Regions from separate parts of the Homo sapiens genome. Here region 1 is linked to region 2. The links come from fine-mapping of genetic effects on gene expression. A gene starts in region 2. The other region holds a variant in brackets. All regions are shown on one strand. Distances are from middle to middle.

What was found. PIP is the estimated chance that this variant, and not a neighbour inherited with it, causes the effect. A credible set is the group of variants that fine-mapping cannot tell apart.
Region 1: its variant is the best candidate, but not a certain one, in a credible set for the expression of KHNYN in whole blood (TOPMed, PIP 0.74).

The regions. Positions count from the first base shown.
Region 1 is chr14:24,457,628-24,462,996 of GRCh38, reverse strand. All of the region lies in intron 2 of LOC101927045 (a long non-coding RNA gene), which reads right to left. Among named protein-coding and RNA genes, the nearest start is that of SDR39U1, 18 kb to the right of the region's middle. The variant A/G (reference allele first, on the strand shown) is at 2,885.
Region 2 is chr14:24,427,851-24,433,219 of GRCh38, reverse strand. KHNYN (KH and NYN domain containing) reads right to left here and starts at 3,266. Exons shown (of 8, transcript NM_015299.3): 1 at 3,101-3,266; 2 at 2,289-2,506; 3 at 610-1,757; 4 at 368-498; 5 at 188-284. The coding sequence starts at 2,489. CBLN3 (cerebellin 3 precursor) reads left to right here and starts at 3,552. Exons shown (of 3, transcript NM_001039771.3): 1 at 3,552-4,465; 2 at 4,815-4,934; 3 at 5,234-5,369. The coding sequence starts at 4,166. RefSeq lists enhancers at 848-1,409, 1,410-1,971, 2,010-2,119, 1,972-2,535, 2,680-2,859 and a silencer at 2,890-3,429.

The DNA.
Region 1 (5,369 bases), 30 kb before region 2:
TTCCAGGACCTGCACTCTCAACCACCATTCTTTCATTTACTCAAAAAATACTAATTGAGCATCTACAAAATGAAGGTACTCTCCAAAATTCTGGGGTGAAGAGTGAACAAAGCAGATAAAATCTCTGCTCTGACACATGCACACATATGTTTATTGCAGCACTATTCACAATAGCAAAGACTTGGAACCAACCCAAATGTGCAACAATGATAGACTGGATTAAGAAAATGTGGCACATATACACCATGGAATACTATGCAGCCATAAAAAATGATGAGTTCATGTCCTTTGTAGGGACATGGATGAAATTGGAAATCATCATTCTCAGTAAACTATCGCAAGGACAAAAAACCAAACACCGCATGTTCTCGCGCATAGGTGGGAATTGAACAATGACAACACATGGACACAGGAAGGGGAACATCACACTCTGGGGACTGTTGTGGGGTGGGGAGTGGGGGGAGGGATAGCATTAGGAGATATACCTAATGCTAAATGACGAGTTAATGGGTGCAGCACACCAGCATGGCACATGTATACATATGTACCTAACCTGCACATTGTGCACATGTACCCTAAAACTTAAAGTATAATAATAATAATAATAATAAAATCTCTGCTCTTGTGGAGTTTGCATTCTAGTGAGAAGAGACAGGTAACAAACAAACAAGTAAATACACAATACATCAGACGATAATAAGTGGTATGAAACATAAGACAGGATGAAGGAAAAACAAAGTTCCAAAGGTGAGGAAGAAAACCGATTTTAAATATGCTGGTCAATAATGTCTAATAAGACATTTGATTAGAGACCTGAAGGAAGTGAGGTCTGGGAGAGCCATGTGGCTATTTGGAGGCATGGCATTTCAAGCAGGGGAATAGCAAAAAGGCCCTGGGCAGAAGCAAGTTTGTCACGCTATACTGAGAAGCCAGTGTGACTTGGGCAGGACAGGCAGGAGGTGAGGTCATATAGACAAGTGAGGACAAAATCACTGGGGGTCTCAAGGGTCCCCTGAGATCTTATAAGATCTTTGGCTTTTATTCTGAAACCAGAATCCATTGGAAGACTTTGAGCAGAGGAGTGGCATGATTGATTTAAGTTTTTATAGGGATCGCTCCGTCTACCAAGTGAACAATAAATTCTAAGGGAGCAAGAGTTAGGGCAGAAAAACCAGTAAGGAGGCCCTTATGATGATCCAGACAAAGATGCCATTAACTTGTACCAGATGGTAGCTGTAGTGAACATGGTGAGATACCTAATTATGGGTTTATTGCATGTATGGATTTCTTTTAGAGATAAATCCAACCATTCCTGCTCATGGATCAGGGGGAGTTAATGATGACTCCAAGTTTTTTATTTTGACCTGAGCAAATGGGAAAACTACACTGCCATTTGCTGAGACTGGGAGAACCAGCAAAGGAACAAGTTTGGGGCCATGGAAATCAAGAGAATGGTATGGGGTGTGTTAAGTTTAGATGGCTATTAGTCATCCACATACAAACATTGGGTAGGTAGTTTGATATTTAAGCCTAGAATTCAGGAAAAATATTCAGGCTGGAGTCAGAAACTTGGGATTCATTAGACACTATTCAAAAACCTGAGATTCATACTAAGGAGTGAGCCTACATGGAGAAGAGGCCCAAAGACAAAGATTGCAGTATGCCAATGTTTAGAGATCAGGTGACAGTCAAAGCCAGCCAAGGGGACTGAGCTGTGGCTAATGAGGTAAGAGGAGGACAAATCATGTCCTGGAAACCAGTGAAGAAAGTGTTTCCACTGAAACAAATGTTGCAGAGAGGCAAAGTATGTGGTGATCTGAGATCAATGAATTTAGCAACATAGAGGTCACTGACAAGAGCTGTTTCAACAGAATGGATGAGAGGCACTAAGCCATGCTACCTCTGTAGATGGAACCTAGCTTCTCTTCAGAGATTTTATTTCCCCTCAAAGTTCTTCAGTCTCAAAAAAGTGAAGTCCCCATGCTGTGTAACAGCATTTCATCTAAGAATCAATACTCTGGCCTTTGCCTGGATGTGGAGTCCTGTGAACAGTCCATAAAAGGTCCTGGTTGTAACCTTCATCCCCACAATCCACACCAGGCACCCTGAACCTCTCAACTCCACCTTCAAGCCACTAGTTACATCCTCAACTTCAGTGCCCCAGGGATCCTACACAGATCTAACCTGGATACTGAGCCCAGGGCTGTCTCTTAATTATTTAGAGTCTAAGCCTTGGGGACAACCTCTGAGTCCTCTCTCTTCCTCTGTTGTCATGGCCACCCCCTTATCCTCTCCTGTCATCTTTCTTTCTTCTCCATCATCTCCTTCTCTATCTAATCAAGTATTCAATGAGATACCTCAGTGACGTAGTGACCTTCTGTCTAAACTCAGCAAAAATTTCATGCTGGTTGTGGTCCAGCCTCCTGTAGCTGGGTCTGGCCTATGTTGATCCATGGAGGAGAAGATGGACTAGCCTACATCTCCCTCCCTAGGAACCCCTCAGGTTGCCAACTGCTGAATGGTATAACGAAATGTGAGCTGAGTGGGTAGAAGACGCATGAACGCAAAGATAAAGCCAGCTCTGGTGATCACTGCCTCAATCCCCCAGGGCCACAGACAACAGACTTTATCCTGTGTCTTCATGACACACACACGCATCCACATGCACATGTGCCTGAGGATTTCCAAGCTGCCTGATCTCCACATTTACTACCATGAGTGCCTGATTTAATAGGTCCTAGTGACAACAACTTTATTATATCAGAGTGCAGGGAGAAAATCAGGCCCAGCCCTCATCATCTCTGCTGTGCGGAGGGGTGTGAGAAGTAGCATTCTGCCAGCACAGAGCTATCCAGCACCTGGGAGGCCCTGTAATTGAGTGTCT[A/G]CCATGAGAAAGGAGCTGGAGAAAGCTGACCTTCCCTGCAAGCACCTGCTCATATCTCCCTGGGTCCCTTCCCCAGAGCCCAGCCTCCCACTACCCCCAACTCATGTGGGGCTGAGTAGACTGTAGGGAAAGGGCCACAGCCACAGTGGAGATGGAGAAATACATTCTCCATAGATTAATTTCAGAAGGGCCTGTGCTGGGGCCAGGGGAAAACAGACCCAGGAGAAGCCTCCCAGTGGCCATTTTACAGCACAGAGCCAGACAGTGGCAAGAGACTGCAGCCAGTAGCCCTTCCTCTGAGTGAGTAGGAAATGGAATTGCTGGGCTGGTGAAGCCTCTGGTGGTGCAAGAAGAGCTGCTCATGCTAAACAGTTCCTCTCAGGTCCAGCCTGGCCAAAGACTAACATCATTATCTATCTATCTATCTATCTATCTATCTATCTATCTATTTAGCTTTCTCTCCCCAGCACTGTCAGAGTATGTAAGAGGGCATTTCTCATTCACTGCCCTGGAAACTAAGAGCAGAGAGACCTCAAGGGCACTTGTTCTCCACAGCAGGTCCTGGCCAACAACGGAGGGTACGGAGCTGATGCTGGAGGCTGGCCAGGTCTCTCAGCTCCTACAAAAGGTCCCACTGGGAACAGATGTCTGGTTAGGGGTCAGACTAGGGATGGGGGCATCTAAAAGTCTTAGTGGAAGGGAAAAAGAAGAAGACAAGGTGCAGCCCCTGGAGAAGACCTGGCATCTCCACAGACATCGAGGTTCAGGAATGCTGTTCCTGTGGCCCCAGACCCTGAGGTCAGAGCAGACTATCTTATAAAAAGGAAGGGAGATTTCTAGGATCCTTTATCCAATGTGTCTCCAGAATTAGGATTTTGGTTGGTTGGTCGATTAATTGGTTAGTTGATTGGTTCTACCATACAGTAACAGAAATATGTAAAATGGTTATGTGAATAGCATTTGGCAAGTAACATCTCAGAGCCTGAGAGAAGTCACAAAAATCTATTCCAACAAAATGAAGCAGGGAACATTCACACAGGTGGCATTGGGAAGGGGCAGAGGCACTTGTCACCAGCAAATCCCCCATCCCACTCTGCCTTGGCCCAAGCTGAAGAAGCAGCCAGGATCCTTCTCTGACTTTTTATCCTGCCCCGCAGGGCTGGCCTGATGCCCCAGAGGTTGACTGAGCTCAGCTCCTTTTGTTGTTTCAGGAAGCAGCTGTGAGGAAAACAGTCCCATTTCAAAGTACTTGTGATTGCTGCAGACCCAGGAGGAAGCCTTTTCTTCCCAAAGGGAAAGCCAGCTGCACTTGCCCCTAAGCCCAGATGTGCAGATGAAAATTTCTCATGTCTTGTTGTCTAAGGTTTGAATGTTTTAACCTCCAAAGTGTCAGATGGACTCTGAGAGCTGCAAAAAGTTTAACTAAAATAGTTCAGTTGCTAAAGGAGAGGCTGAGGAGGATGAGAGAAGTTGACCCACCCATCCCCAGAACCCAGAAGAACGACAGCTTTAAGGAGGTTGGATGGAAAGCTGAACACATTCAGACAGAGCCTGCTCTCCATCAGCCTCCCTGGAGATGAGGGGCTGGCTGCTGCAATGGGAGCTCTGTCCCTATGTACCTCCTCTTCGCAAGGGGTGTAAAGCTCTGCAGGAGGTTTCCATCTCACCTCCTTGAGGATATTGATGGACATCCACCCTCTTAAATCTATACTCTAAAAGGCATGTAATTTAGTGGAACCCTCCCACTCACCTCTCACCTTCTACAGCACAACTCCCAGCTCACTGGAAGGAAAGACATAGCCAGGAGAGAAAGGAAGGAATGTCAACGTTGTTGAAGAGAGGAGGAGTTCCTTAACACCTCAGGGGCTCAGCTGGGTTTCCACAGTGGAGGACAGTGAGTGGGGCTACCCCACCCCTGGTCCAGCAGTAGACACACGACTCAGGCCTGGCCAGGCAGAAAACTCCATACTTGGCCACAATAGTTGGTTCAGAGATGGCACGAGACCCATAACAGTCCAAGAAGAGTCAGTTCTGACATTCTTTATGGAATTAAGAGAAATAGTTACTCTGCTGGAAATAGAAGCCAAGAATTCATTCTCACTCTAAAGGGAGAAAATCTTCCTGAGAATGAAGTCAACCAACAAAAAATAAGAGCTGAGAATTAAAAAGATGTGGATCCTTGATGACATTATGTAAGCACCTGGATCTAGCCATGTATAAAGCCAGTTTGCTTTGCAATATTACCCAACGTATTTTCCCTCTCAGTACTTCCTTTTCCCTCTGCAGTGTAAGGGAACAAATCCGACAAGCCTTAGTTTTGACTCTCAAAAGCAAGTTGTTTTATTCCATATCTAACTAATAGCCTGGAAAGGAGGAAATTCAAGAGCAAGGGTTTTGTTGAGAGAAGACCAAGCATGGAATTTGTTTTATAAATCAGAGGGTAGGAAAGAAACTGGCTATGATGTCAGAGCAGTTGCCCATTACC
Region 2 (5,369 bases):
GTTCATCTCATCACACCTGCAGGGCAGGTTTACCTACCCAATCATAAGGCACACAGAGGAATAACTGGCCCCTTACCCACCACCAAGGCTTAGAAACAGCGTAAACCACCAGGAGCTTTTCTCTCTCCCTCAGTCTTCCATAGGGCTCCTTCAATATCAAGCCTGGGGCCAGGAGAGGAGCAAGTACCTGTCATCATAGGAGGAGATCCTCTTGCCATCCATGACTCGTGAGGGTGTGAGGGAGAGCAGGCTGAGGGAATACAGCTTTTGCAGGAAGTGACTCTCTATTGAAAAAGAACATAATAGGGTTCTCCTCAAAGTGGAAACAGAGCCTATCCTGGGACACTGAAGACCAGGCCCAACTCACCTCTGACTTTGGCATCCTTACTGAAGCGCCACTGAGGCACAAAGACAGTTATGTCACGGTGACCACGGTCCCAGAAGTACTGCACAGCAATGGCAATGCCCCGGCTGGAGAAGTAGTGCTGGAGGCCATGCCTGTAGTGGGAGGGGGTCGGCCAGAGGAGGGGCTTGGCACCCTGGCTACAATGCCAGCCCCTCAGGACATATCCTCCCTCTCCTAGGCCCTTAGCCCCACCAGGTACTCACACCATGGCCACGTTGCTGCCGTCAATGACAATATGGCGGAGGTCTGGCTGGCCAGGCACATTGGCAAGGCACAGGGTGAAAGGATCCTGCAGGGCCTCCTTGAAACGCTGTGTGCCAGTCACCAAGTTGCCCCCTCGGGCGCCTCGTTTCCATTGAGGCCCCCGACCCCGTGCCATGCCCTGCTGCTTGTCTCCCCTGTCCCCCACGTCTCCCCGGTCTCCGCAGTCACCCCGGTCTCCACAGTGCCATGGGGGTTCCGGTGCAGGTGGAGGGCTGGGCACCCTCGGAGGAGAGGCATTCCCATTGTGGAGCCGCTGGAGGAGGGAGGCTCCTCGGGACTGAGCTGCCCTGTGACAGGAGCCATGGGCACCGGGAGGCTCACGGTGGACACAGAACCCTCCTCCTCCCAGAGCTATCTCCTCCTTCCCCAGGGCCTTCCCTTTCAGGGGTGCTGACTCCCTTGCCCCTCCACCCACTGACTGTGGCCTGAGGGCCACTTCTCTCTCCCACGCCTCTTCCCCAGGCAACTCCTTCCACCCCCAATCCATCTCCCTGGGACCACCCTGTTTCCCTCCCTCCTTCTCCACAGCGTAAGTGTCTCCCCTTGCTCCCCTGCAATCTCCGGGTCCCATAGATCCAGTGTCCAGGGACTCCCTGCCGTCACTAGGGGGAGCTCTCACTCCTTGGCACTGAGCACCCAGCAAGGCTGAGCTCCGCCCCTCCCAAGAAGCCAGTGCTCCTGGCCCCTGCCCACTAGACGCCTCCTGCACCAGACTCAGCAGCTCCTCCTGGACAGCCAGGGGCAACTGCAACAGAGCCTCTCTATGGGCATCCCCCGGGGACTGCAGCAGGGCAGAGAAGTCTCTCAGCACTCCAGTACACTGAGAGGCTCCGGAAGATGGTCCTGGCGTGAAGTCCCAGCTCAGCCGCTCTGCCAGCTCTTCTACCCGGCTCTGAGCCATGACAAAGGCTTCAGTCAGGCCACTGATCATCAGTGAGCCTGGCGCCCTGGGCACCAGATGGGCTGACGTGCTCCAGGCCAGGCAGTCAAGGAAGAAGCCCTGGGCTCCCAGAAAGATGCAGTGCAGTTTGGGCGGGTAGTGGATTTCATCCTGCAGTTCTGGGCTGCAGAGGCCCTTCAGGTACTCCTGGTTGGGAGGAAGGGAAGGTCAGGAAAAGTAAACTAACTGGCCCAGATCACCCCTCCTGGCTCCTTGCTCGCTCCTGAGCTCCAGGATGTCTGGAGTATCCACATGATGTTATTCCCATTTTAGAGATAAGGAAACTGAGACTCCCATCACAAAGCTGGTACATGATTGAGCCATCCTGGAACCCCAGCCTAATCCCAAAGGAAGCAATGTGGCCCAGCCTCCCACCCCACAGTGCATTCCTTGGTGGGGCCAACTTGTTCAGCCAGATATCTCTATTCTCCCAAAGAGCACAGAATGATTTTTGCCAGCCTGGGCCATCACAGAAGAAATTAAGCTGAAACTGAAAACAAATATAGAGTTGGAAAGTCCCTCAAAACTCAGGGGCACTGAGGTTGCCAGTGAGACAACCAAGAAGTGGAGATCCTCCCCAGGCCCCTCCTCTTCCCTGCTCTCCTCGGCCCTGCTCTCCTCCGCCCTGGGGGAAAGCGTCCTTGGTGCCTGGAGGGATGGGGGAGAGAAGGCGTTCACCTTGGCTCTGCTGGCGTTTTCCTTGGGGCCCTCCAGCTGCAGCCAGATGTGGGGGTTGTCCGGACAGTCCTTCGGAAGGACGCTCACCCCCACGCTGAAGATGCGCTCCACATGGGGCTGCTGTTCCCGAACCTTGTTCTCAGCCTCCGCAGACACCGCAAAGCGATCTGGGGACGCGGGGCGGGCCCCCCAGGTAGGCATGGCTGCTGCCCCCAGCCCTGGAAGGGGAGAAGGCAGCTCAGAGCCTCATTGTACCCTCCATCCAAATCCTGGTTCCTGGGACTACACCAGCTATCAACAGGTCGCACCTAGTTAAGGCTCTGGTAAACAGCCCCAGGAGGTGACAAGCATCTGAGTCCACTGGAGGTAGGGAGGGTGTATGTCACGCAGGCCTCTCCGGAGAGGAAGTCCCGGTAAACAAGGCTGTCTATCGAGAGTGGGCGTCTGGGCTTTGGAAAAGGATGACCACAGTCCGGAGCAAGAAGGGTGGGGGGGCTCCAGCTCGGCCTGGAGGCCAGAAGGAGTCTCCTGGGGCACTCTGAAGCTTCTTAAGGACGAATCCTCAGCAGGGGATTGAACTAGGCTGTCCTCTGGGGGCCCTGGTCTGCCATTTCCAAGGTTCAAGCCACTCCCACCCCTCCCCCAGCCGTCCGCTGCCCCTCTCCGTCGGGCCAGGAGCACCGCCCAGGGCCCAGGGGCCGGGCCGGGCCGGGCCCGCCCACCGCGGACTGGGGCAGCCACCCCGGGCCGGGCCTACTCCGCACCGCGGCCCCCGCTCCCCGCTCCCGGGCGCGGTGGAGGGGCGCGCCTACCGCCTCCGCCGCCCGCGCCGGCTTCAGGTCCTCTCAGCGCCCGCCAGGCCCCCGCTTTGCCCGCGCCCCCAGCCCAGGGGACAAGGGCAGGGGGCCCGAATCTGGGCGGGCCTTCCCGGGTTCCTCACCCAGCGGGGACCTCTCTTGTCCACATCGCACGCAAACTGTTTCTTGAGTCACTTCCTGGCCTGGGGCGGAGTCAGCCCAGCTCCTCCCGGCTGCGCGCCCTCCTCCCAACCCCGCCGCCGCGCCCAGAGGCCCCGACGGGCCCGCTCGGCCTAGTCCCCTCGGCGGCTCCAGGGCTCGCCCCTTGCGCTTCTCACCAGCCCTCCCGTCTGTCTCCCGGCCCTCAGGGTCCTCGCGCATTCTGCGCAGTTACTTCTCGGAAAGGGGAACCATGCGTTGAAAGTTGTTTCCCGCGAATAAAGATGTGGCCGACCAAAGAGGCAGCGTGACTGGCCCACTGGTGCTCTAGGCCCAAGCACTTTCCACCAAAGCAATCGTGGCGGAGGGGGTAGGCGGGAGGCGGGAGGCGGAGGGTACCCGTGGTGGAGTACCCCTTTCTTCCAACAAACGGAAAGATGCCACGAAGAAGGGCTGTTGATTTGTGGGGGATTTTGAAGAGAGGAAGAGTAGGAGGAAGGGGTTGAGGGGCTGCCTCTGGCATATGCACACACTCACACATTCTGTCACACCCGTCACACACACATACCATGTTCTCCATCCCCCCAGGTCCAGCCCTCAGTGCTGTCCCATCCAGCAGGGCTGCCCTGAAGCTCTGGCTGCAGCCCTCCCGTCCAGTGGGCAGGCGGCTTCATCCCTCCTTTCTCTCCCAAAGCCCAACTGCTGTCACTGCATGCTCTGCCAAGGAGGAGGGAACTGCAGTGACAGCAGGAGTAAGAGTGGGAGGCAGGACAGAGCTGGGACACAGGTATGGAGAGGGGGTTCAGCGAGCCTAGAGAGGGCAGACGATCAGGGTGCCGGCGGTGAGAATCCAGGGAGAGGAGCGGAAACAGAAGAGGGGCAGAAGACCGGGGCACTTGTGGGTTGCAGAGCCCCTCAGCCATGTTGGGAGCCAAGCCACACTGGCTACCAGGTCCCCTACACAGTCCCGGGCTGCCCTTGGTTCTGGTGCTTCTGGCCCTGGGGGCCGGGTGGGCCCAGGAGGGGTCAGAGCCCGTCCTGCTGGAGGGGGAGTGCCTGGTGGTCTGTGAGCCTGGCCGAGCTGCTGCAGGGGGGCCCGGGGGAGCAGCCCTGGGAGAGGCACCCCCTGGGCGAGTGGCATTTGCTGCGGTCCGAAGCCACCACCATGAGCCAGCAGGGGAAACCGGCAATGGCACCAGTGGGGCCATCTACTTCGACCAGGTAATCCCCCTACCCCTGTCCAGGGGACCTGGAAAGACCCTGCAAGGACCTGGAAGCAACTGTCCAAGCCCACTTTGCTGTCTCTGAGGCTTTAAGAAAACAGCTTCCTACATCTTTCACTAATCTGGCCTATTGCCCCACCACCCCACCGACGGTTTCCCCTCCCTCCACCCATACGCAGCCCTCTCCTTGCCCCTTCTCACCATTTCTTTTGAATCTGTTCACTCCTATTCACTCCTACTTGCCACTCCTTCTATTCATTACTCACTGCCCCTGCCCCTAGTCCCCATGGTACCCCTGAGCCATGGGCATTTCCTGAGCCCCACTCAGCAGGCTCTGCTTCCCCCAGGTCCTGGTGAACGAGGGCGGTGGCTTTGACCGGGCCTCTGGCTCCTTCGTAGCCCCTGTCCGGGGTGTCTACAGCTTCCGGTTCCATGTGGTGAAGGTGTACAACCGCCAAACTGTCCAGGTGACCTCAGCACTGGCCCCCATCCCCGGCTCAGGAGGGTGGGGAGGGGGAAGAAGGGGAGCCCAGCTGACCTCCGGGTGGACTCTCCATTGACCTGTGTCCTGGAGGCCAGGACCAGGGGAGGAATGGGCCTGCCTTGCATTGAGTGTGGAGGATGTGCAGAGTCCAATGCTGGCCGCCCCTCAGCCCTCCCGGGAGAGCCCATTAAAACCCAGCTTCCCAAGAGGAAGCTCCTGGGAAAGTGGGGGGTCCTGAGCTAAGGGCTGGGGAATGGGGGCTAACTGGGCTCCCCTCCCCAGGTGAGCCTGATGCTGAACACGTGGCCTGTCATCTCAGCCTTTGCCAATGATCCTGACGTGACCCGGGAGGCAGCCACCAGCTCTGTGCTACTGCCCTTGGACCCTGGGGACCGAGTGTCTCTGCGCCTGCGTCGGG